Regions from separate parts of the Homo sapiens genome. Here region 2 is linked to region 1. A link means that fine-mapping ties the variant in region 1 to the expression of a gene that starts in the linked region. Tissue or cell type: whole blood. Region 1 holds a variant in brackets; the other region holds the start of a gene. All regions are shown on one strand. Distances are from middle to middle. Region 1 has its middle 51 kb from the start of TOB1-AS1. Region 2 holds the start of TOB1 (transducer of ERBB2, 1).

Region 1 (10,841 bases):
TGCAGCCTGTGTGGGGGAATTCAGGAGCAGAGAGTGCTTCCCACCCAGATCGTAAAGGAGAGGATACTTTACAACTCTGCAGTGTGGAGAGGATTTCCAACCCCATAAGGGAGCACGGCCAGCTTGTGCATTTATCCACATGCCCAACAATGTTTACTGAGTGTTTCCTCCTCTGTGGCCTGTGGGCCAGTCATCACATTTAATTCCCCCAACAGCCTGTGCAAGAGGCATTATTGTTCCACATTGGGGTCCCTCTCCTTGAGACAACCAGCACCCCCATCTCTTCTCCTCTGCTTCCCAGCCTGGCTGGGCCGGGGAGGAGGTTATAAGGCCCATGGTGGATGTTACCCATTCATTGCCTTCTGGTCCTGTGGTTGTTATGGACTCTGGCTGGGGTCAGAGTCTCCAGGGGCCCCCTGGGCCCAGGCTCTCCACCCAGGCAGCCTCACCCAGCCTGCACAGGTGGGGCCAGGCAATTTATCGACTGATCTGGGTGTGCCCCTGTAGGGAGGAGAAGGCATGGACCAGCTGACCTCTGCCCCATCCTCCAGACCCAGAGGCTGTAGACAACGAGCTTTCCTTAAGAGGCTCTCAACAAATACTCAGGCTTGCCAGGGCTCCTCTGCTTATAAAAATTCCATCTTACAGCATAGAAAGTTTGGAAAGCGCAGCAAATGTATATAAAAGTCACCTAAAAGGCCACCAGCTAGCGATGACCATTGTCAGCATTCAGGAGTATGCCTCCTCTTCATCCCAAAGTCAAACATGAACTACGACTAGGTTGTGACTAGGTTGTACTCTTCTACAATGGGGACACAGGGGTCACAGTTATTCCATTGTTTGTCTTTTATTAATTCTCCTCCATCCTTGGCTTGTTTGGGGACTTTAAAAAAAAAACCGCTTCCTATTACATAGCACAGACTTCAGGAAATACTTGTTCAATGAAGGGACAGGCAGGGCCTGGTCATGTTGGGACTGGAACCCTGGCTGGCTTTAGGTGTGCCCAGCACAAGCTGAACCCCAACACCATTCACCATCCAACCATTCCTGGCATCCCTGGCATGAGGTTAGTTCTCACCAGCTCTCAGTGGAGGTCACTAGTGTTTGTTGACCTTAGTAAGGGAGATTCACAGCTGGGCATGGTGCCTGTAACCCCAACACTTTGGGAGACCAAGGCAGGAGGATCACTCAAGCCTAAGGGTTGGAGACGAGCCTGGGAAACATAGGAAGACCCTCTCTCTACAAAAAAATTTACAGATTAGCTGGGCCTGGTGGTGGGCACTTGTGGTCCCAGCTGCTTGGGAGGCTGAGGTAGGAGGATCGCTTGAGCCCGGGAGGCTGAGGCTGCAGTGAGCTGTGATGGTGCCACAGCACTCCAGCCCAAGTGACTGAGCGGGACCCTGTCTCAAAAAAAATCAATCAATAAATAAATGAGAAATAAAGGAGATGCAGGTGGAGAGGGAGGGGCCTGGATCCTGGGGCTGTGGCATCAGGCAGAGTCTCAGCTTCAGAGTCAGCGGGCAAAATAGGGCCCCGGGGCTGAAGGGTAGGGTTCCTTCCCCTTGAGCCCTCAGAGAGGTTGTTAAGAAAGAGAGAGGCCAAGCGCAGTGGCTCACACCTGTAATCCCAGCACTTTGGGAGGCTGAGGCAGGCAGATCACCTGAGGTCAGGAATTTGAGACGAGCCTGGCCAACATGGTGAAACCCTGTCTGAACTAAAAATACAAAAACTATCTATCTGAGTGTGGTTGTGCACACCTGCAACCCCAACTACTAGGGAGGCCGAGGCAGGAGAATCACTTGAACCTGGGAGGCAGAGGTTGCAGTGAGCAGAGATTGTGCCACTGGGCTTCAGGCTGGGCAACAGAGCAAGACTCAAAAAAAAGAAAAGAAAAGAAAGAAAGAAAGAGAGAGACAGTTCTTAAGGAATCAGGCTTCAGAGAAAGCAGAAGTGTGGAGGACGGACACAGGAAGGCTGTCGGTTGTAAGAGGAGGCTCTGCAACATCGCCAGCAAAGGCGACCGAATTTCTCTTCCCGGAAACTTCCAAGAAGGGGGCATCTCCGTGGACTGGGTCAGAGACCACCTATCCCTGGGCGAGGGGAGGAAGCAGAGGCTTCAGGAGCTCTTTCAGGGAGCACGGAGGCCAGGGCAGCCTGCAGGACAGAGGAGGGTGTGGCTGGAGGGCCGAGGTGGCTGGAGGACAGGAGAGACTTTGGCCAGGGCATTGGTTTTCCTTACTAGGCTGGGCAGGCTTTCTAAGCCTCTGCAGGCAGCCAGTTTGGGGAGGGGCCTGGGCTTGGAGATTCTCGCTTGGCTCAATCCCCTCTTAGATCCGGGAGCTCGTGGGAGGCTTCGGACAGAGCTGGCCCACTCTGCAAAGGTACTTTAGGATTCTTCCTGGAAAACCAGCAAGAGGAGGAAGCGAACACTGCCAGGCCACAGGCCCAGCTTGGATGGCGAGGAGGCTACAGCGTTAGAATCTGGACTCAGCCACATCTATGCCGAGTGACCGTGGGCAAGCAGAGATTTAACCTCTCTGAGTTTCAGCGTCTTCCTCTGGGAAATGAGGATTTTTTTAAAAAACCACACAAAAAATTTTCTTCTGTCCCCTTCTCCCACTCAAGGTTGCTGTGAGGATTATAATGCAAGAGCAAATAAGCAGAAGGGGGCTGGGTGCAGTGGCTCACGCCTGTAATCCCAGCACTTTGGGAGGCTGAGGCAGGCGGATCATTTGAGGTCAGGAGTTAGAGACCAGCCTGGCCAACATGGTGAAACCCTGTCTCTACTAAAAATACAAAAATTAGCCAGGCATGGTGGCACACACCTGTAGTCCCAGCTACTCGGGAGGCTGAGGCAGGAGAATTGCTTGAACCCGGGAGGCAGAGGTTGCAGTGAGCTGAGATCGCGCTTCTGCACTCCAGCCTGGGGAACAGAGTGAGACTCTGTCGGAAAAAAAAAGAAAGAAAGAAAGAAAGAAAATAGGCAGAAGGGCCTGCCTGGCATAGCTAGGTGCTCAATAAATGTTATTCTTCCCTGAAGGTGTCCTCGGAATTGGTGGCATACGCGAATTGCCTTGGGGGTTTGTTTAAACTGCTGACTCCTCTCCACCCCGGCCCAGCAGGTCTGCCTTTTTCACAACACCCAGGCCCAGGTGATTCTTAGGCAGCAGGACCCCAAAATAGCACCAAAGACGCCAAAAGGCTGTTGCCAGATGGGGGTCCTAAGCAGGTGTGTGGGTAACCCCCTGCCCACCGACTCTCACGCCTTAGGCCACCAGCCTGCAGCCCCTCCCTCCCACAAGCACCGTGGGCCCTGTTGTGAGCTGCCAGTTGCAGTGTGGGTTTTTGTCTGCCTTCCCCACCCCATGCCAACCCGCCCAGCAGGCCCCACTGCCTTGGCAACGCATTGCAAAGTCCACACAAAGGGAAACTGCGCTGGGGAGGCTGGTCCTGCCCGACGCCCGGGGAAGGGTTTCCATGGCAATGCTGACATCACCAGGCTCTGGCGGCTGCAGTCAGGCCCTGCATGAAGGCGCCTGGCTGTTCACACCACAACGACCTTGGAGGAGGGCGACCCAGGGCTCTGCACCGATGCCGGGGGGCGGAGAGGGCCTGCCCCTGGGTTCGAAACCCAGCCCTACCCCTGACTGGCCAGGTGACTTTGAGCAAGACACAGGGTCTGTCTGAGTCTAAGTCTCTTCACCTATAAAAGAGAACTAATGATCTTTACCTTGCAGTGAGGAGGAAATGAAATCATGGCTACTGTGCAGGGATGGGTAAACTGTAAAGGCTGGGGAGCACCCTGAGCCCCGTGACTGCTGGGCC[C/T]CTGGGTGTGGGATCCAGAAGGAGAGGCTGGGATTCGGGGAGGAGAAGGCACAGTTATCCAACAACCTCCCCTGCGCCTCCTCTCACTGGGGAGGAGGAGAGGTATTTGGGGAGATGTGTTATTTGGGGAAGAGAGTCATGGGATGGGGAGACATTGGGGCTGGATGGTGGCTTGGATTTTCCGGTCTCACACCCTCAGCTCAAGGATGAGGATTCAGAGGCCCAGGAAGCAGCTGTGACACAGGCCCAAGCTCATATCCCTGCATTAGGATGGAGCCAGGGTGCAGGGGGTATGGGCAAGGGTCCCCTGTGCCCCAAGGGTGGGCCCTCTGGGTGGAGCCATCTCTGTTCTCAGTGGCAGTAACACTGACTCCTCTGCAGGAAATAAACAGTCAGAAGCACAAGGCGGGAGAGGGTGGGACCTTCTGAGATCAGTGAAGCTGTAGGTTGGAGTCCACCCACGGTGTGCTGGGCAGGAGGAGAGCCGGGCAGCGGGGAGCTTGGAAAGGCCTCGAAGGCTTCCTCTCTGCTGCTGTCCCTAGGAGGCTCTCTGAAGGCTCTGCCTTTTCCCAGCTTTGGCTAGGGGCCCCCACCCCACCCCACCCCACATGGTGAGGGTCTCCCTAGGCCTTAGCCACATGGCTTGGGGCAATTCCAGGAGGAGGCCTCAGGTGTCCACAGAGCTTTCTGCCTAGCCAGCTCACCCCCACCACCAGCTTGTCCCCTCCTGTCTGTCCTCTGTCAGGATCTGGGACCTGCCGCAGGCTCTTTATCTCCAAGGGAATTGCTGGGGACTGTCCCCACTCAGTGTCCCAGCCAGGGTCTTACTGTGCCCTGGTGCCCCATTCTGCCAGACTTTGTCCAACTTCCACCCAGACGTCTGTGTCCCACCCTCCCTGGGCCCAAGTGACCCCTCTGGGCTCTTGGCTCCCTTTGCGGGAAGGTGGACCTCCCACCACAACAGCGGTCACTCGTCAGTCCAGAGGGAGGCTTCCATGAGGTTGAGACGGCCATTCTGACCTGAAGTTCCCCTCCCGCGGCAGGAAAGCTGCAGGCCGTCATTCTGCTTCCTCTCCCTGGGGAAGTCGCCCTCCTTCACCTCTGGGGCCAGGGAAGGGGCCCGCTGCCTGGGAGGGGAGGGCAAGTGCTGTCCTCAAAGCTGCAGTCAGGTCACGGGGAAGAGAGGAAGCCATGGGGCTGCCATGTTAGGCAGTGAGGGCTTGCTGGCACTTGCGCGCGCCCGCCTCTGAGTCCCTGGCACCTATGCCCCTCTTGGCCACAGCCTCACTTGTACTTACCCTGCTGAGGCCTCCGGCTCAGCTGGACTGTGACGTGCCATTGTTTGGCTTCGAACCGGTTCTGTAAGGGTGGCCCCAGTCCAGTGTCCTGGGGTGGCAGAGCCACCCATCGGGGTGCCCTGGAGAAGCCAGGCATCTGGAGCAGGAGGTCTGGAAGGCGGGGGGAGGAGGAATGTCCCTGCTGAGATAGAGGTCCAAGGACCCCCTCCAGAAGCCCACACTTTGTGCCCACACAAGGAGCACAAGGAGCCTCAGTGGCTTCTCGAAGCTGCCTGGCTCCATGAAAGGATGGTGGCTGGCCTTGGGCTCTGCGGGGATCAGCCACGTCCTTTCCCTTTGCCTCCAAGACAGAGGAATTGGGTTAAAGGTTGGAACCACCTGGGAGGACACTTCCCTACTCACCAGGTACTGGGCTTTCCAAGGCTGCATCCTCTGCCCCCTCCCCTCAGGGCTGTAGACCCCGGGTCCTAGGCCTAGCGTCCCTCCCTGAAAGTATTTGGGGACGAGCCCAGCTGGCTCGGCCACCTGCTCTGGCTGAATAATGGGCATGCTGGCCTAGGCCTTCAGACACCCTGGATGGGCGGTGGGGGACCCAATTCGTGACTCTGACTTGAGTGTGCTCAACCCAGCACTGATTTACATAACATGGTTTTGCATGAAAAACAAGCCAGCATGCAGTGTGGGGAGGGCCCCAGCTGTGGCCTGCTGTGGGCAGCTGTCCTTGGCCGGCCTCCCCTGTGGCCCTGGCTCCTGCCTTCCCCTGACCTCTGCAGATTCCTCAATAAAGAATCTCCCACCCCAGCGCAGCATTGAGTGGCCTCGATGGGTGAGCACAGGAGCCAACCACGATGGCGAGGATGCCAGACTCCCTCCTGGGGAAATCCTGGGGTCTTCCATTCCTCTGAGGCTGAAATCACAGCACAGGGGCACAGGAAGCTGTGGCGGGGGGCCAGGGCGGGGCGGGGCGGAGCTGTTGAGCACCTACTGTGCATCAGGTCCTGCTCGAGCCTCTTTCATGCACATTGTGTCACTGCACCTTCACAAGACCTGCTGAGGAAGGTAGAGTCGTTTGGGGGTGCCAAGAAAGAAAGTGAGTCACTCTATGGGGCTTGGAGTGCCCTGGGTCTGTCTAATGGACACCTCACTTGCATTGCACGCCCTCTCTGCCTGGGAAGCATTGCCCACCCTGGGTGCCTGAGGGCTCACACACACTGTCTAGGAGCGGGTGAGCGAGGCTTCTTCCTCCCCGAGGTCTCCAAAAGCTGGAGAGAACTACCTCTGTCCATCTGGGATTGTGGGCTGGGGGTGGAGGTCTGCCAAACCAGGCCCAGAGGAAATAAAGAAAGGGCGGGTCGGAAGCCTCACTCTCGAAGCAGCTGTTAATTTCAAGAAAGGTCCTCCCAAATCCTTAGCCCCTGATCCATCTAACACTCAGCTCAGAAACATTATGTCCTGGGGTTCTTTCGCTGGAAACAGAGTCAGGCCTGGTATAAGCTTGGGAATCGCAGATAAGCTTGCATCTTGAGCTGGTGTCCAGCGGCCTGGTCTCCCTGGGCCTGACCAGCTGTGGAACTGGACAAGGCTCCTAATCTTGCTGACTCTGTTTCCTTGTCTGTAACTCTGTTTCCTTGTCTGTAACTAACACAGGGCAAGTAAAACCTGCTCTGCCTATTTTAGATGGTGGTTGTGGGAGCAGATGAGATCCTGTATGTCCAGCTCTAATCAGGCAGGCACTGAATAAAGGGAAGGGGTGATGTCTAAGGCCAGCAAGGACAGTCAACTCTCTTTGAAGAACCAGAGTTTCTTTCCATCCCCACCCCCAGCCTGCTCTGTCTCTTTGGCTCAGCCATATTGAGCCTAGTCTGAGTTAGGCCAGAAAGGCCAGTGACTCATAGTGACCTCACTCCTCTTTGTCTCAGTTTTTCCTCCTGTAAAATGGGCACAGCTGCTCTTGGTTAAGAAATCTGCCAATGAAAGGCCCTCAAAGGCTGTGTCACTCTGTTATTAACATCACCACTCCTCCTTGCTCTTACTCATCTGGCTAGGAAGACATGTGAAAGGGGAAGATTCTGGAATCTTATTAGAATAAAAATAAGGAAAATAAGTATTGCTTAGCCTGGGCAGCATAGCCAGACCCAGTCTCAAAAAAAAAAAAAAAAAAAAATTAGCCAGGCGTGGCATGTGTCTGTAGTCCTAGTACTTCTGGTACTTGGGAGGCTGAGGCTGAGGCTGGAGGATCACCTGAGCCTGGGAGTTCAAGGTTATAGTGAGCCGTAATCATGCCACTGTACTCCAGCCTGGGCAACAGGGTGAAACCTTGTGGGGGACAAAAAGGAAGAAAGAAAAGAAAAGAAAAAGAAAGAAAGAAAAAAGCCAGGCACAGTGGCTCATGCCTGTAATCCCAACACTTTGGGAGGCTGAGGCGGGTGGATCTCTTGAGGTCAGGAGTTTGAGACCAGCCTGGCCAACATGGTAAATCCCTGTTTCTACTAAAAATACAAAATTAGCTGGGCGTGGTGGTGGGCGCCTGTAATCCCAGCTACTCAAGAGGCTGAGGCAGGAGAATTGCTTGAACCTGGGAGGCAGAAGTTGTGGTGGGCCAGGATCGCGACACTGCACTCCAGCCTGGGTGACAGAGTGAGACTCTGTCTCAAAAGAGAGGAGAGGAGAGGAGAGGGGAGGGGAGGGGAGGGGAGGGAAGCATGGCTTGCAGTCCAATGCCCAGAGCTAGCTGGGCCTCACACGGCTTTTCCGGCCTAGCTGGTGGCCTGTGCCCTGTCACATTTCCACAAACAACTGAAGACAAGTTACCATTTAACCAGTCCATGGGAACTGGGGCCAAACTCTCTCCAAATGGCAAACCAGCAGGACCTGTTTGCTGGGGTGAAATAACCTCGCTGGACTTGGTACATAGCTGCCCTCCCACAACCCTCCTCCTGCCATGCCCAGCCCAGAAGGGTGACCCTGGCAGGTCTCCTGAACTTTCTGAGCTTGGGGCCTCATCAGTGGATGTGGGGGAAACGGTGACTGGGAGGAACCAGCAATGGGGCCCAGGGGAGAACACACACACATTCAGAGGGGTGAGCTGAGCCCCCCAAAACTCGACCAGAGGGGCCCAAGGCAATCCGCAGTGCATTGGAGAGTCAAGCTGCGATAGGAGAGGAAAGAGCAGTGAGTGATGGAGAGGAGGGGCCTCCCTCCACCCAGAGACCGCAGGCTGGGGGCATGGGAGCCAGAGAGGTGCAGATCCCTCCTCCTCCCTCGGCCCCTCACAGCCATCCCTGAGGCCAGGTTAACCATGAAAGGTCTCACCCATCTCAGGCTCCTCTTGAACCAGGGTTGGGTCTCAATTCTCTGGGACCCCCACATACCTGATACCCCAAAGGTAGAGTTGATACTTATTGAATAAATGCTCAGCTGCTGTCTGCTTCCTCAGAACTCCTGACCCTTGGTCAATTGAGCGCCTACATTCCTGAACTACCAGAGCAGGGAGATGGTCGGGGCGGTGGGGGGTCTTAGGGATTACCAAGTGTGTTGTGGGGAGGGAAAGTTACATTTTACTTGACCGTTTAAAAATATTCTATGCCTGGCTGGATGCGGTGGCTCACGCCTCTAATCCCAGCACTTTGGGAGGCCGAGGTGGGCTGATCACAAGGTCAGGAGTTCGAGACCAGCCTGACCAACATGGTGAAACCTCATCTCTACTAAAAATATAAAAATCAGCCGGGCTTGGTGGCACGTGCCTGTAGTCCCAGCTACTTGGGTGGCCGAGGCAGAAGAATCACTCGAAGCTGGGAGGTGGAGGTTGCAGTGAGCCAAGATTGCGCCAGTGCACTCCAGCCTGGGAGACAGAGCGAGACTCCGTCTAAAATAAATAAATAAATAAATAAATAAATAAATTCTATGCCTAAGGTGAGACCAGATTATATTTATTTGTCCTTCTTAAAGTTTCAAATTAAAGTTGTAAAATATTTCAAATATACAGAAAAGTACAGAGTAATATCTCAGCCACAAACCCACCACTAAATTTGGACACATGTAAATATTTCACTCTATTCTCTTTAGGTCTCTTTCAATCAAAAATTAAATTTTGGCAATAGAACGGAAGTGACATCCCTAGCCCATCCTTCTTCCTCCCTCATCAGAGGAGACCACTAACTTGAAACCAGCACATTTCCTATGCATGTTTTCATACTTTTACTATGTACACGGGCCCATAAGCAACCTACGGTGTCATTTGCAGGTTTAGAAAATTAGGTGTGAGGCCGGGACGGTGGCTCATGCCTGTAATCCCAGCACTTTGGGAGGCAGAGGCGGGTGGATCACCTGAGGTCAGGAGTTTGAGACCAGCCTGGCCAACATGGCAAAACCCTGTCTCTACTAAAACAAAAATTAGCCAGCATGATGGCAGGCGCCTGTAGTCCCAGCTATTCAGGAGGCTGAGGCAGGAGAATCGCTTGAACTGGGAGAGGGGCAGAGGTTGCAGTGAGCTGAGACTGCATTCCAGCCTGAGCGACACAGCAAGAGTCTGTCTCAAAAAAAAAAAAAAAAAAAAAAAAAAGGAAAAGAAAAGAAAGAAAGAAAGAAAGAAAAAAAAAAAAGAAAATTAGGTCTGAAAATGTGAGTTGCAGACTGATAGTGCCAGGTTTTCACCCTCTGTGCTCCAGGGCCTGGCCACTGAGTGATCTCCAGGCTGGGAGCTGGAGGCAGCAGCTCACAGTGCCTTGAGCAGCTCCACTCTCCTGTGATTTATACATGGGGGGTTCGGCATGAGATTGCCTTGGAAAAACAGGTTCCACAGTTTGAAAGTCACAAATCTAATGAAAATTCATCTGACAGAGAATGAGGCCAGTGCCCAGAGAGGGGAGGTAACTTGCTCCAGGTCACACAGCAGGCTGAGTGGCAGAGCCTTCTGATGCCCAGTCCAGGAGTCTTGCCTTCCCCACTGTCCAATAAGGAAACATAAATGGGCACCCCGACCCAAAGGATGATTTGCTCCTGGGTCAGGGAAAGGCAAAGGGGTCTGGACAGGGGCCTCTGAGGAGGCCTCTGACCTCCCCTGTGGGGAGTGGAGGGCACAAGGAAAGTGCCAGACCTGCACTCTCCAATATGGTAGCCATGGCCATGTGCCCATGGGCACTGGAACAGTTAGTCCACACTGAGATGTGCCACAAGAGTAAACTACATACCAACCAGATCTTGAAAATTTAGTATGAAAAAAGAATATAAAAGATCTCTTTACTTTTTAAATGGTTTATGTGTTGAAATTATAATATTCTAGACATATTGGGTTAAGCAAAATATATTCAAAAAATTAATTTTACCTGTTTCCTTGTTTTAAATGTGGCTATTAGAAAATACTATATTCTGGCTGGGTGCAGTGGCTCATGCCTATAATCCCAGCACTTTGGGAGGCCAAGGCAGGTGGATCACCTGAGGTCAGGAGTTTGAGACCAGCCTGGCCAACATGGTGAAACTCCGTCTCTACTAAAAATACAAAAATTAGCCAGGCATGGTGGTGCACGCCTGTAATCCCAGCTACTTGGGAGGCTGAGGCATGAGAATTGCTTGAACCCAGGAGGTAGAGGTTGCAGCAAGCAGTAAGCCGAGATCACGCCACTGCACTCCAGCCTGGGTGACAGAGCGAGACTCCATCTCAAAAAAAAAGAAAAAAGAAAATATTATATTCTATGTGTGGCTCGGGTTATATTTCTATTA
Region 2 (14,756 bases), 48 kb after region 1:
TTTGGGAGGCCAAGGCAGGTGGATCGCCTGAGATCGGGAGTTCAAGACCAGCCTGACCAACATGGCAAAACCCTATCTCTACTAAAAATACAAAATTAGCTGGGGTGGTGGCACGCGACTATAATCCCAGCTACTCAGGAGGCTGAGGCAGGAGAATCGCTTGAACCCGGGAGGCGGAGGTTGCAGTGAGCTGAGATAGCACGATTGCACTCCAGCCTGGGCGACAGAGCGAAATAAATAAATAAATAAATAAATAAATAAATAAATAAATAAAAATAAAAAATAAAGTGGTAGCGCAAAGCCCTTTGCCTTGGGCTCTGCTTGTTTAGGAACCTATGCTAAGACAGCCTGTAGCTGAAAGTCCAGGTAAAGTTGATTCAAGGGCTGCTCAAAAGGCTGTTTCCAGGACTTGGTTTTTCTTGGTTTTACCTGGGTTAGCTACATTCTCTGACAGGCTCTCTCCTTTTGGTACTAAGATGGCCCTGGGAGCCTCAACAATGAATACTTCCAGGTTCATATTTCATGGGAAAGAGTCCTTATCCCAAGACCTCAGACAGAAGTCCCAGAATTGAGTTATTGGCTCTGATCAGCCATCCCTAAACCCATCACAGTAGTTAGGAGAATGTGATGCTTTCGCTGGCTTTTGCCTTGTCAAGAGTCTCACTGGAAGCTCCTGGATGAAGGGTGGGAGAGGTATAGGTTCTCACACAAAAATCGCAAGTCTCACTAGAAGCTCCTGGATGAAGGGTGGGAGAGGTATAGGTTCTCACACAAAAATCGCAACTGTTGCTGGAAGAAAGGGGAACAGATGTTGTCTAGGCTAACAACAAGGAAAGGTGGAAGTAATCAACCCTCCTGGTACCACAGTAGAATTTTCTACAGAAAGGTTTTAGTTTTTTCAGAAACCGTAAGTTTTTTTTACTTAATACCTTGCCACATAATCTTTTATTTTTTCTTTTCTTTTCTTTTTCTTTTTTTTTTTTTTTGTGACAGAGTCTCGTTCTGTCACCCAGGCTGTAGTGCAGTGGCATGATCTCGGCTCTCTGCAACCTCCATCTCCTGGGTTCAAGCAATTCTCATGCCTCAGCCTCCCAAGTAGCTGGAACTACAGGCACGCACCACAACAGCTGGCTACTTTTTGTATTTTTAGTAGAGATGGGATTTTACCATCTTGGCCAGGCTGGTCTCAAACTCCTGGCCTCAAGTGATTCATCCACCTCAGGCTCCCAAATTGTTGGGATGACAGGCCTGAGCCACCGCGCCCGGCCAAAACTTTTCCTTTTGTTCCCAAGTGGATAGAAGTATTGGTCTCCAGGTGGGGTCTGTATCTTCCTTAAAAGACAGTAAGTATTTCTTCTTCAGAACAACCAAACAATTGAAGAATATTCCATTGGGTGATAAAACTACGTCTAGCAATTGAACACACATTGGCAGGGCAATTCCTAAGTATCAAGTAATGTACTATGCTCTGGGGCATTTAGAGATAAATAAAATGTGCTCCAAACAGAATTCCAATAATGTCATTTCCCAACTGAAAAATCACCCAACATCTTCCCGTCTGTTAAAGGCAAAATTCCAGATTTCCTCCCTTGGTAATCTGGCCTCTGCCTACCAACCAGCCTCCTCTCTAGATTCTCACCTCTGAACCATCCACAGCAGCCACTCTGAGCCACTTACCCTTCCTCAAATATTCTGTGTTCTTTCATTGGATTAAGCAGCGACCTAGCAAAGCCATCAGTCAATACTGATTGACTGCAAGGCACTATAAAGCTCGTGTAAAGGTACATGCTTTCTGCTCTTAAAAAGCTTGGAATCCAACAAAGGCTAGGACATAAACACACGGAAGGCTAAATAAACTAATAATTAAATAATAATATAAAACATCAAGCCATGGGATTCTGAGAGGTTTTTTGAAGGTGAAAAGGACTGAGTTGGCAACACTGTATCTGACAGAAGAGAGTGTTAATAATACTTGTTTGTAGTTTAAAAGCAATTTCACATGTATTTTTACTTGAGCTGAATCAAATGGTACTTGAATTTCTGCCAGATGTAAGAAGCAGAGAAGGAAGAGAAGGAGGAGAGGAGGAGGAGAAAGTAGGGAAGGAGGGGAAGAGGGAGGGGGAGAGGAAGGAAGAAAATATTCACATTTATGGGGGGCTTGACGGTTCATAGAGCGTTTTCACAGGTGTCACCTCAATTGATTCTCACACAACTCTGAGGGTAATTATTGCTTCTAATTATTTATAAGATGAGGGCTGAGACTCAGAGTAGCCATACCCAACTAATACCAGGTGGCAAGACCCAAACACAAATTCTCTAATTTTGAATTCATAATTTTTCTTCTCTGCTCCACTGCAGCTGAGATAGGAAGTGGGGGCCATGTTAGGATATCCAATGTTAATACAATGGGCAAAGTCTTAAAAGTCAAAAGGAAATATTTGAAGTAGTTATTAGTAAACAGTGTGAAATGTGACAGAAAGGTCAAGAAGACAGAGGCCTAAGTAAAAATGATTAGAACTGTTTTTGTTTGTTTGTTTGTTTTTGAGAAAAGGTCTTGCTCTGTCACCCAGGCTGGAGTGCTATGGAATGATCACTTGCCGCTTGGAACTCCTGGGCTCAAGGGATACTCCCACCTCAAACCTCCTTAGTAGCTGGGACTACGGGTGCTTGCCACTACACCCTACTAATATTTTTATTTTTTTTGTAGAGACAGGGGTCTCGCTATGTTGCCCAGGCTGGTCTCAACCTCATGGCCTCAAATGATCCTCTCTCCCATCTCAGCCTCCCAAAGTGCTAGGCTTATAGGTACCACTGTACCTGGCTTGCTTTTTTTTTTTTTTTAAGCATTTATGGATAACCCAGGAGTTAGTCAGGACCTTATAAAGTGAAACAGTAGATTGAAAAGCAAGGTTCTAGGCATCAAAATCACATGTTTAAAATGTTTGGGCAAGTTCTAGAGTGAGGTTTATGACCAGGATCCTCTTCAGCCACGTATCTGTACACAATATGCAAGATACTCATACAAATTGAAGCAAAACACAAAGACCTCTAAGAGAAACATGGAGAAAAGGCATAGATAAAAAATTTATAAAAACAGTAGTACAACGAGCTGACAAACATGTCAAACTCTATTCATCCTACATGTAATCAAAGAAATAAAAATTAAACAACAGATATCATTTTACCTACCAAATTAGCCAAGGATAGAAAAAAATTTTTTAGTAGGCAACGCTGGCTAAAAATGTAGTGATTTTGCAGTGCGTATCCTCTGGGAAGGTAAAAAAGTACAATCTCTCTGGAAGGTGGATTGTCATTATGTTACCAGCCTTAAAAAATATTCCTTCTCTTCCACTCGCTAAGTTTGCTTATAGAATCTAGCTCAGGGAAATAGAGAGGTAGCTAAAGATTTACATATAAAAATGCCTGTTAAATATGTTTGTTTTTAATACAGAAACATTTTCAACAACTTAGATGCCCAGCGATGGTTAAATAAATTATTCTAAATCCATAGAGTAGAATATAATATGCAGTCATTAAAAATGATGATTGTGACAAATGCTTAATGTCAGGAGAAAATAGGAAAAATGTAATGTTAAGTGAACTGCAGGATAGAAAATTGCGTGTGTGATAGAAACTCATTCAGAAAGAAATGGAGCAAGATGGTTAGCACTGCATGGAGAGATTAAAGATGATTGCTATTTTCTTCTTTATTTCTATGTGTTCCAAATTTGCTATAATGAGCATTTCCAGGTTTTATAATGAGAAAGAAGCCCTGATATTTTAGATTAGAGGAAAAATTTATTTTGGCTTTTTTGAAAATCAAGTTCAGGTTTCCTTAAAAGATGTAAAATTAGTGTTTTTGCTGGAAATACTTCAGCTGCAAGTCATGGAACACTTAATGTCGGTTAAAAAGTGGACCAGACCTAGGCAGTGACTAGCATTGGTGAGAACCCCTGTCCCTGTGATTAACTTGCGTTTTATTCATGGTTTATTCAGTAGGAGCTGCTGCAGCTCCTGCCATGAGATCCATGTTCAAGGCAGGAAGAAGAGAGAAGTGACCCAGTGGTGATTTTTAAAAATGGCCTCAAATTCTTTGACACTCCTCCATGAGAGGTGGTGGTTATGTCCCCTCCCCTTGAATCTGGCTGGTGGTTACTTTGACCATTAGGGTGTAATGGAAGTGGTGCATTGTGACTTATGAGACTGGGTCATAAAAGGCCATGCAGCTTCCTTGGTGGCAGCTTCCATGGTGGCAGCTTCCATGGTGGCCAGGCATGGTAGCTCATGCCTGTAATCCCACTGCTTTGGGAGGCCAAGGCAGGAGGATTGTTTGAGGCCAGGAGTTTGAGACCAGCCTGGGCAACACAGCAAGACCCTATCTCTAGAAAAAACTTGAAAAAAATGGTTTTAATTTTTAAAAAGTTCACTCTCCAGAAACTGCTCTGCTTCCTCTCAACTGCCACGCTGTAAGAAGCCCAAACCACAGGGGAAATTCAGAGGCCATGTGGAAACGCTCCAAACAACAGTGCCAACTAAGCCCAGCCCTTGAGTCACTGCAGCCCAGGTGCTAGACATGTGCTTTGAAAAAGCTTCCAGGTCCATGCTGTCCAATTCAGAAGCTGCTGTCCACATGTGATTATTTAAATCTAAATTTCATTAAAACTAAATTAAAGTAAAAATTCAGTTCCTCAGTCACACTGGCCACATTTCAAGTGCTCAAGAGCCGCATGTGGCTATTATATTTGACAGCACGGATATGGCATATTCCCATCACTGGAGGAAGTTCTGTTAGACCTGCTTCAGATGATACTTGAGCATTTGAGCCTTTCCAGCTGAGGTTCCAGACACTATGGAGCAGTGATAAGCTATCCATCCCCTTGTGCCCTGTCTGAATTTTTTTTTTTTTTTAAGACGGAATCTCTCTCTGTCACCCAGGCTGGAGTGCAGTGATGCTATCTTGGCTCACTGCAACCTTTGCCTCCTGGGTTCAAGTCATTCTCCTGCCTCAGCTTCCTGAGTAGCTGGGATTACAGGCACAAACCACCATGCCTGGCTAATTTTTTTGTATTTTTAGTAGAGAGGGGGTTTTGCTATGTTGGCCAGGCTGGTCTCGAACTCCTAACCTCAAGTGGTCCGCCCTCCTTGGCCTCCCAAAGTGCTGGGATTACAGGTGTGAGCCACCAGGCCAAGCCTGAATTTCTTACCTACAGGATCCAAGGGTATAATAAAATTGACCTTTTGTGCCACAGTAAATGCGTGTTTTGGATAGTTTTTCATGCAGCAATAGTAACTAGAACAAACCTCTCTGATAGGAAAAGCATAGCACCCTCAGAAACCATCCCAGCTGACTTCTGTTTACATCTTATCTGCAGAACAGTGTCACAGTGCCACCTCTACTGCAATGAAGCCTGGGAAAACATGCATTTAGCTCTTCTAGCCTCTTTAGTCAGGAAGAAAAGGGAATGAGGATGGGGCATGGGAAACGGGTGAGCTGGCAACAGTGTCTGCCACAATTGGTTATATATATAAAATCACATTCTATTTTAGTAAGCAGAGCTGCATAATAACATATGCAACCCATGCTTTAAATGTATTTAAAGTACTCTAATAACATTTGCTCTCAGAGTACTTTATATAAATGTTCTTTGTACTTAGAATGTCATGAACACCGTATCACTCCTAGAACCCGCACTATAATCTCTTTACTGAAATCAAAATCTTCCTCCTCGGCTAATGGAAAGAAATTGCAAGATTTGGTTTGGATTTTGTTCATCAAGATAATAGAAAGTGAGCAAATTATAAGGAAACATTCTCCTATCAGACCACGTTGCTTTAGTAGGCTTGTTCAACATTATCTAGTTATCTTTTAATTACAAATGTCTGTGTGCCAGTGTCTTCTGGAGACTATATAGCCCTCCACTACAAACCCATGTGAAAAGCCACAGGAAACCACACTGAGGTTTCCTCAGACGTAACTGGATTGCCTTTTTTTGAGAAATGTTTAGAAGAGAACTGGTTTACTTGGTTTTCAATAACTCAATGACTAGAGCATGATTTAAAAAATTAATTTTAGGCCAGGCATAGTGGCTCACGCCTGTAATCCCTGCAGTTCAAGACCAGCCTGGCCAACACGGTGAAACCCTGTCTCTACAAAAATACAAAAATTAGCTGGGCATGATAGCGGGTGCCTGTAATCCCAGCTACTCGGGAGGCTGAGGTGGAAGAATCACTTGAACCCGGGAGGCTGCAGTGAGCTGCACTCCAGCCTGGGCGCAGAGCGAGACTCTGTCTCAAAAAAAATTAATAATAATTTTAAAATGTGTGTGCTATGATTTATGTTGCATGACCGTTTAAAAAGAAATAAATAAAAATCACAATAAGAACATTATGGGGTTTTTTTGTTGTTGTTAGTTTGAGACAAGGCCTCCCTCTGTTGCTCAGGCTGGAGTGCAGTGGCACGATCACTGCTCACTGCAGCCTCGACCTCCTGGTCTCAAGAGATCCTCCTGCCTCGGCCTTCCAAGTAGCTGGAACTACAGGTGTGCGCCACCACGCCCGGCTAATTTTTAAAAAATAAAAGAAAATAAAATAGAAACGGCCTCGCTATGCTGTATAGGCTGGTCTCCACCTCCTTGTCTCAAGAGATTCTCCCACCTCAGCCTTCCAAGTAGCTGGGACTACAGGTGTGCATCACCACTCCCGCCTTTTTTTTTTTTTTAAATAAAATAGAGATAGGGGTCTCACTGTGTTGCATAGGCTGATCTCGAACTCCTCGGCTCAAGGGATCCTCCCGCCTCAAGCCTCCTAAAATGCTGGCATTACGAGCATGTGAGCCACCTTGCCCTGCCTGTCTTATTTTCAAATAAAGGTAAAAGGTTGATTCCTTAGAAGTGAAATGAGTCGGCCGGGTGCGGTGGCTCATGCCTGTAATCCCAACACTTTGGGAGGCCGAGGCGGGCGGATCACGAGGTCAAGAGATAGAGACCATCCTGGCCAACATGGTGAAACCCCATCTCTACTAAAAATACAAAAGTTAGCTGGGAGTGGTGGCGCATGCCTGTAGTCCCAGCTACTTGGGAGGCTGAGGCAGGAGAATCACTTGAACCCGGAAGGCAGAGGTTGCAGTGAGCCAAGACTGTGCCACTGCACTCCAGCCTGGCGACAGAGTGAGACTCTGTCTCAAAAAAAAAAAAAAAAAAAAAAAAGAAGTAAAATGAGTATTAATAATTATACACCATGTGATAGCTATTCTCCTGTAACCCTTTCTCAATTTACAAGGAAGCATATTAAGAATTAGAAAACTTAGGATGTCTCTATCTCAGAAATCAAGGTGTTGCATGTGTGTGTTCTTGTGTGGATTAGGTAATAATTCAAGGCACTTTCAAGAACTGTATTTTATGAAGATATTGGAAGTTATTTTTTACCAAACGATTACCTTTATTGTAAGGGCCCACTGGGAATTGTGTAGAATGTAGGGATGTGAAAGGCAAAGGCTGTAGTTTCTAGTGACTGTTATTTGCTCAGAGAGAGGAATACCTCTTGATTGTGATACACTTGGAGCCTAATATCAAATTCTTTTTTCCTCCATAAGTCTAATTCCCTGCACAATTAGCAGTTAGCCCTCCACTCCCCTGCACAATTCCAAAGTAAATGTTAGATAATAATAAGCCATATGCAGAACTTGGATAAAGAACATTTTATACCTCGTGACTGGCAATGTTCAGAGATGTGAATCAGTTTTCCCTTTTATTTGCAATCCATATATATGTATTTTTTTTCTTTTTTGAAACGAAGTTTTGCTCCTGTTGCCTAGGCTGGAGTGCAATGGCGCGATCCCAGCTCACCGCAACCTCCGCCTCCCGGGTTCAAGTGATTCTCCTGCCTCAGCCTCCCGAGTAGCTGGGATTACAGGCATGCGCCACCATGCCAGGCTAATTTTGTATTTTTAGTAGAGACAGGGTTTCTCCATGTTGGTCAAGCTGATCTCGAGCTCCCGACCTCAGATGATCCACCCACCTTGGCCTCCCAAAGTACTGGGATTACAGGCGAGAGCCACCGCGCCCTGACTTGCAATCTGTATTTGAAGAACAGCTGCAGTATATATGTTAGGAACATTGAGTTTTAAGGGCGGAATATTTTATTTATTTATTTTTTTGAGAGAGAGTCTCGCTCTGTCGGCCAGCAGGAGTGCAGTGGCACGATCGCGGCGCACTGCAACCTCCATCTCCCAGGCTCAAGCAATTCTCCTGCCTCAGCCTCCCAAGTAGCTGGGATTACAGGCGTGTGCCACTACACCCGGCTAATTTTTGTATTTTCAGTAGAGACGGGGTTTCACCGTGTTGGCCAGGCTGGTCTCAAATTCCTGAGCTCAGGTAATCTGCCTGCCTCAGCCTCCCAAAGTGCTGGGATTACAGGCGTAAGCCACTGCTCCCAGCCAAGTGTGGAATTTTTTTTTAATTGAAGGAGACATTAGATATGATCTAATTCAACCCTTTTTATAGGTGAGAAAACTAAAAGTTTATTGAAACTGGTGTGAAACTCAGACCTCCCAGTACCCACCCTTCATTGCTTTTTCCAGTATGCCATGGGGCCTCCGTGTGTGTTGTTTGTGTGGTGTGTGTGTGTGTGTTTATATTTGGTCAGACATCTTCTTACACTCCTAGGCCAAGCAGCAATAACTCATAAATTTTTGACATCTACATTTCTGACTTAAAAATGCTTTTAATGCTACTGATATTTAATCAGTACCTATCAGATGACTGCTCTCATATTTCAAATCTGGAATTACAGATTGAAGACATTCAGAAAAGAGAACTTGTCCCTTCTCTTTAGAGAATTATTGAAAAGTACAGATAAGTTTGACAAAATTACAATTCATCTATCTTTAGACATTTTAGTCTCAGCCATGCCTAATATGCCCCCCCAATATAAAATTACTAATCAAGACACATGGTCCCGCAGTTCTAGATGTTTGGTACAGTACCATTATTTGCCTAATGGTAAAAGAAGTTGTGCTTCTAGAACACGTGAAAAATGAAGTGTTTCTTTTGGTAAGGCATTCCAAGGATATCCTGTCTAGTTTCTTGAAATTTCTGTGCTTAATTAGAAAACTAAAAATAACTCACTTTTATTACAGATGGACTTGTCATTACAGAAAACCAAAAACAAACAAATAAAAAAAGAAAACTGAACAAATCATTTATATTTGACGCTTTGATGACATTTCAATGCAGAGGAAGGGACATTTTAATTTAAATGCTTTCACAGTTTTGCCATACTTTCACATTTCAATTCCACTCCTGTTTGCAACTAAAAAACCCAAACACTCAAAAAAAAAAAAAAATCACATTAATCAGAATTTAAGGAGTCACTTAGTAAAACTATGTTTTAGGAATCTGTACAATAAACATGAAATCAGTCACCTGACCACTCCCCACCCTCAGCCCATTCCACAAACCCATCTTCCCACCCCTTCTCCTACGCATTGAGCCTTCAGAAATACCCTTTCTCAGTGCGGTTCCTTCTAAAAAGGAGAGGCGGGAGAGTCAGGGTGGAGAAGGCGGCTCCAACCAGATTTTGCGTCCACAAAGCCAAAAGCTTCTAGGCCTGGCATGTACGGCGGGTTTGTGCCCGAGGAGCACAGCTGGTCTACACGGGCCCGCCCCGTAGACACCCTACTCCTCGGTGAGCTGCGGTTTAACTTCCTTATAGCAGGTTGAGAGTGCAGGCCCCAACGTTTGGAGGGGAAGGCGGCGCCCCAACTGGTGTTTTTCCAGGAAGTGCTCCAAGAATGGAGAGGAGAGGGGAAAGGGGAAAGGGGAAGGCCAGGCGATGGGCGTTTCATTCATTGCTTCTTTCTCCCCGTCCCCTCCTTCGCTCCCCCCAGACTTTCCCCTTTTCCCAGTCCGAGTTTGACGTCGGTCTCCTGGATACCAGGCAGCCAATCGCCTCGTTGCGAAGGGACCAGCGCAGCCAATCAGGCGTCGTTGCTACCTGTGAGTAATATTTTTAGCTGAGAGGGACGCTCGATTCCACTCCCGATGTAATTTCGTGTATTTCTCTGGGGCAGGTTGTGAAAAAGGCACTTACCCGCCCCCCACCACGAGTCCCTCTCTTACCCCACTCCCTAGGTACCCGCACATATTTCAGCCAAGAATGATCTTAAACGCGCTTTACAAGCAGGCACCGCGTTTATTCTGTGCACCTGCGATCCAGCAAGCCCTAGAAATGCACGCATGCGTGTGTGTGTAGACATGGACACAGATACATACGCAGTTTGGCCTCGTGTCGCCACACTCTGGGCACGGCGTGGGCTGGGACATTTGGAATAAACGGATCCGAGTCGCAGCCGGGGTCGCACCGGGAGGCCTGAGGCTGCGGAAGCAGTTAAACTGCCGGCGGGGCGGGAGCTGTGGCGGCCTCCCTTCCCCACCCCCAGCCCGGCTCCACGTCTTTGGGTTCTGCAGCTGCCACTCTCTGGGTGGCGGTTGGCCTAGGCCTTGGGGTGATTAATATTCAATTAATCGGGTGCACAAGTCCCGGTCACAGTTTGCCCTTTCTCTACCCCGCCCCTGGGGTGGGCTGGAGGCCGATTTGGTAGCTATTCCACGAGCAGGATCCTCCTTGGCCGCAGACCCCCGCGGAGAGGGCACTTTCTGGGTACTCTTGCCGCTCCTCCAGCCCCGGTTCTCCTGAGCCGCTTCGCCACCAGCTTCGTCCCCCTCCCCCTCTGCCCGGCGCTCTCCGCCTAAACCGGGCGTCAGCCGCCCTACCCCACCCCTTTCTCTCTCATTGGCACGTCTGCCCCCACAGTCCCTTTCCAGACGTTCTCTTCATTCCGTCCCCAGTGCTCCGATCGTCGGTTCATTGGCCCTCCTGGAGCCCGGAGGGTGCGGCTTCCCCACCCCTGCGTCCGCCGCGCGTCCGGACAGGGGCAGGCGGGACTTGGCCAATGGCGTCGGGGGGCAGGGCAGGGGCGGAGCCGGCCGGCGGGGGACCGGGGTGCCGGGCGGGGAGCGCGGGGAATGGCTGCGCCGCCGGAGCTGTGTGACGCGGAGCGGGCGCGCGCACCCCGACGGAGGGGATGGGGGCGGGGAGGAGGCCATAAAACGAGAGGCGGGGCGCGCGCCGCGGCAGAAGGAGCGAAGCTCTGGCCCGGCGTGTAGCGGGCGCACTACGGGGACGCTGGGCCGGGCACCGGGCTGTGTGGAGAAGTGAGCGCGCTCGTCTGACCCCCGTGCCCGCCACCCCGAGCCACTAACGGCGATCTCCCAAGGCCTGCCCGAGGCCTCTGTCCTCTGTCCTCAGCCCCGCAGCGGCAACGTCTTGCACTCGGCGAGCTCGCCGCTCCCGACCCTCCCGCGCCCCCGCCCTGCCGCGCTGCTCCCCGCCCAGCCGCGGGTCTGTGGTCCAAGCCGCCCCGAAGCAGCCCGTAAGTATCTCGGGGCGCCGGGCGGGGTCGGCGAGGAGACGGGAGCCCCGGGCCCAGGCGGCGGAGGAGGGGCTGCAGCGGCGTCGAGCCCTGGGCCCTCGGGAGCTCGGGGACGGCGGGGTCGCGGCCCTGGGCGCCGAGGGGGCAGCGCCAGGACCCGAGGGGAGCGGCTCCGAGGGGCCGCCGGCGCGTCGGGCTCGTCCTGGGCAGTTGGCCGGGGACGGGCGGCCCGGGGCGAGCTGACGGGAATTGGGGGGTTGGGGTGCCCGGAGGAGCGACGAGCTCGCGGTGGAACGCTGGGGTTCGAGGGGCCGGTGGCCGCGAGGCTGAAAATGGTGCCGAGGAACCGGTGCTCCCCCAGGCTCTGGCCGGCTCCCAGGAGCCCGGGGCGGGGGCCACGGGGCGGGGAGCAGCGGGTCGGGTTACGGCGGGGGAGGGGAGCGGCTGACCCGGCGCCCCGACCTGCTCGGTGCTGGGTGCCCAGCCGGGAGAGGTTGCTCTTCCATTTCCCGGGCCTTCCTCCTCCTTCTCCGAGGAGGCTCGTACTCTCTTCCTCCTCCACCTCCACCTCCTCTTGCTGTTGCTGCTGCTGTAGCGCTTGGGCTCCGAGGGCTGTGAGCAGAAATCTAATGAGATCTAACTGGCTGTTTATGTAATTCTTCACACTCCTGCCTGTCTTAAGGCGTTGCTTTGTAACTACCTTCCACCGAGCCTGAATTTCGCTCGGCTGCACCTTCAAGCAATTGGGCTTAATCAGCTGCCTCTGCCGGCACTCAGGCTTTTGACTTGGAAAGTGTTTGTAGTTTGGGGGCAGCCAGAGATTCTTTTTCCCTTTGTCACCACGAATATGGAAAATAGAACAGACGAATTAAGACCAACTTGATTTTTAAACGTACTTTTAAATCAACTTCAGTGTGCAAATAGATCCCTTTCGCAAATATCTTCTGTTTGCCCTTGATCTTTTCTTATCCCCACCCAGTGCTGATCCAGCAAACGTTTAAAGGTCGACCTTACCATACTTGCCTCTCCGGCTGTTACCGTGAGAGGGAGGGAGGGAGAGAGGGACAGACGGAGGTTTTTTAAAATCAGACTAAAACTCAGAAACCCTGGCCTTAAACAGAATAATCAATAGTTTTAATTTGTGTCTTTGCTTTTGTTATACTTGCTGCCGAATAGGTATTTTCAGATTTAGAAAAATACACATTGAAAACAAAAGGCCCAGAGAAGCTGGATTTTATTATATTGTATGCTCTTAGTATACTTAAGGCCGAAACTATATAGAATAATTTGGTTCATAATTATTTACTAGGATGAAGTTCATTTAGTACTCAGTGTCTTTAATTTTAGCATCATGTACTATGGAAATTAAAATGATCTTCCTAACGTAACCAAATTTTTAAATGTCAGTGACAGAGCAGATTTAAACAGTATATATCCAAAGTAAACTAAAACATGGATTCACTTCTAAGTTGGTGAATAACAATAAAAATTACTACCTAAAAGTGGCATCTATATATATGGGGGTGGGGGGAGGATGCTGAGTACAATAAATATTCTTGTGAGAACTGAGGAGAGAAGAATGCATGTTCTAGAGATTTTTCTTCTTAGAACTCTATTCAGAAACAGGTTTTTAAAAGCATTATTTCATTTGTAAATCTACATTTTCCTGTGTCATTTTAAACTTTAATAAACGATTTTCTATTTTATGTTTATTTTGTGCTAGTAACAGTTTTCAGGCTTTCTGTCCTAGTAGACATTTTCTTTTTCTTTTTATCCTTAGCAGACTAACACAGGATCTTAGACATTTTGAAAGGTGAAATTACTTTGGAGGGGGGAAGGTCATGGGACTTATATTACATTTATCTTATTTGGATATGTTTGCTTTTGTTTTAAGGAACAAGATCACTCAAGGTGAAGGATAATCTACTAATACCAGCACTTTGAATGAAAATTTGTTTCTCTGCCACAAACTGAACATCTTTTTTTTTTTTTTTTTTTTTTGGTGGGGGAGTTGAAACCTAATTTTGTGGCGTAGCAGCTATGCAGCTTGAAATCCAAGTAGCACTAAATTTTATTATTTCGTATTTGTACAATAAGCTTCCCAGGAGACGTGTCAACATTTTTGGTGAAGAACTTGAAAGACTTCTTAAGAAGAAATATGAAGGGCACTGGTATCCTGAAAAGCCATACAAAGGATCGGGGTTTAGATGTATACACATAGGGGAGAAAGTGGACCCAGTGATTGAACAAGCATCCAAAGAGAGTGGTTTGGACATTGATGATGTTCGTGGCAATCTGCCACAGGATCTTAGTGTTTGGATCGACCCATTTGAGGTTTCTTACCAAATTGGTGAAAAGGGACCAGTGAAGGTGCTTTACGTGGATGATAATAATGAAAATGGATGTGAGTTGGATAAGGAGATCAAAAACAGCTTTAACCCAGAGGCCCAGGTTTTTATGCCCATAAGTGACCCAGCCTCATCAGTGTCCAGCTCTCCATCGCCTCCTTTTGGTCACTCTGCTGCTGTAAGCCCTACCTTCATGCCCCGGTCCACTCAGCCTTTAACCTTTACCACTGCCACTTTTGCTGCCACCAAGTTCGGCTCTACCAAAATGAAGAATAGTGGCCGTAGCAACAAGGTTGCACGTACTTCTCCCATCAACCTCGGCTTGAATGTGAATGACCTCTTGAAGCAGAAAGCCATCTCTTCCTCAATGCACTCTCTGTATGGGCTTGGCTTGGGTAGCCAGCAGCAGCCACAGCAACAGCAGCAGCCAGCCCAGCCGCCACCGCCACCACCACCACCACAGCAGCAACAACAGCAGAAAACCTCTGCTCTTTCTCCTAATGCCAAGGAATTTATTTTTCCTAATATGCAGGGTCAAGGTAGTAGTACCAATGGAATGTTCCCAGGTGACAGCCCCCTTAACCTCAGTCCTCTCCAGTACAGTAATGCCTTTGATGTGTTTGCAGCCTATGGAGGCCTCAATGAGAAATCTTTTGTAGATGGCTTGAATTTTAGCTTAAATAACATGCAGTATTCTAACCAGCAATTCCAGCCTGTTATGGCTAACTAAAAAAAAGAAAATGTATCGTACAAGTTAAAATGCACGGGCCCAAGGGGGATTTTTTTTTTCACCTCCTTGAGAATTTTTTTTTTTAAGCTTATAGTAAGGATACATTCAAGCTTGGTTAAAAAAATAATAATAAAACATGCATCATTTTTCATTTGCCAACCAAGCACAAAGTTATTTTATACTGACTGTATATTTTAAAGTATACTCTCAGATATGGCCTCTTACAGTATTTAAGATATAGCAAGGA

Evidence for each region.
Region 2: TOB1 starts here. The variant in region 1 is fine-mapped to the expression of TOB1 in whole blood (TOPMed, PIP 0.95).

What each region holds. Positions count from the first base shown.
Region 1 is chr17:50,912,479-50,923,319 of GRCh38, reverse strand. No RefSeq gene overlaps it. Among named protein-coding and RNA genes, the nearest start is that of TOB1-AS1, 51 kb to the right of the region's middle. RefSeq lists enhancers at 5,238-5,407, 4,665-5,584, 6,979-7,108 and a silencer at 6,031-6,090. The variant C/T (reference allele first, on the strand shown) is at 3,826.
Region 2 is chr17:50,862,733-50,877,488 of GRCh38, reverse strand. It overlaps TOB1 (transducer of ERBB2, 1), which reads left to right and starts at 11,135. Exons shown (of 2, transcript NM_005749.4): 1 at 11,135-11,431; 2 at 13,326-14,756. The coding sequence starts at 13,472. The coding sequence ends at 14,509. It overlaps TOB1-AS1 (TOB1 antisense RNA 1), which reads right to left and starts at 10,810. Exons shown (of 2, transcript NR_038458.1): 1 at 10,272-10,810; 2 at 9,118-9,993. RefSeq lists silencers at 10,800-11,309, 11,320-11,929 and an enhancer at 12,470-12,519.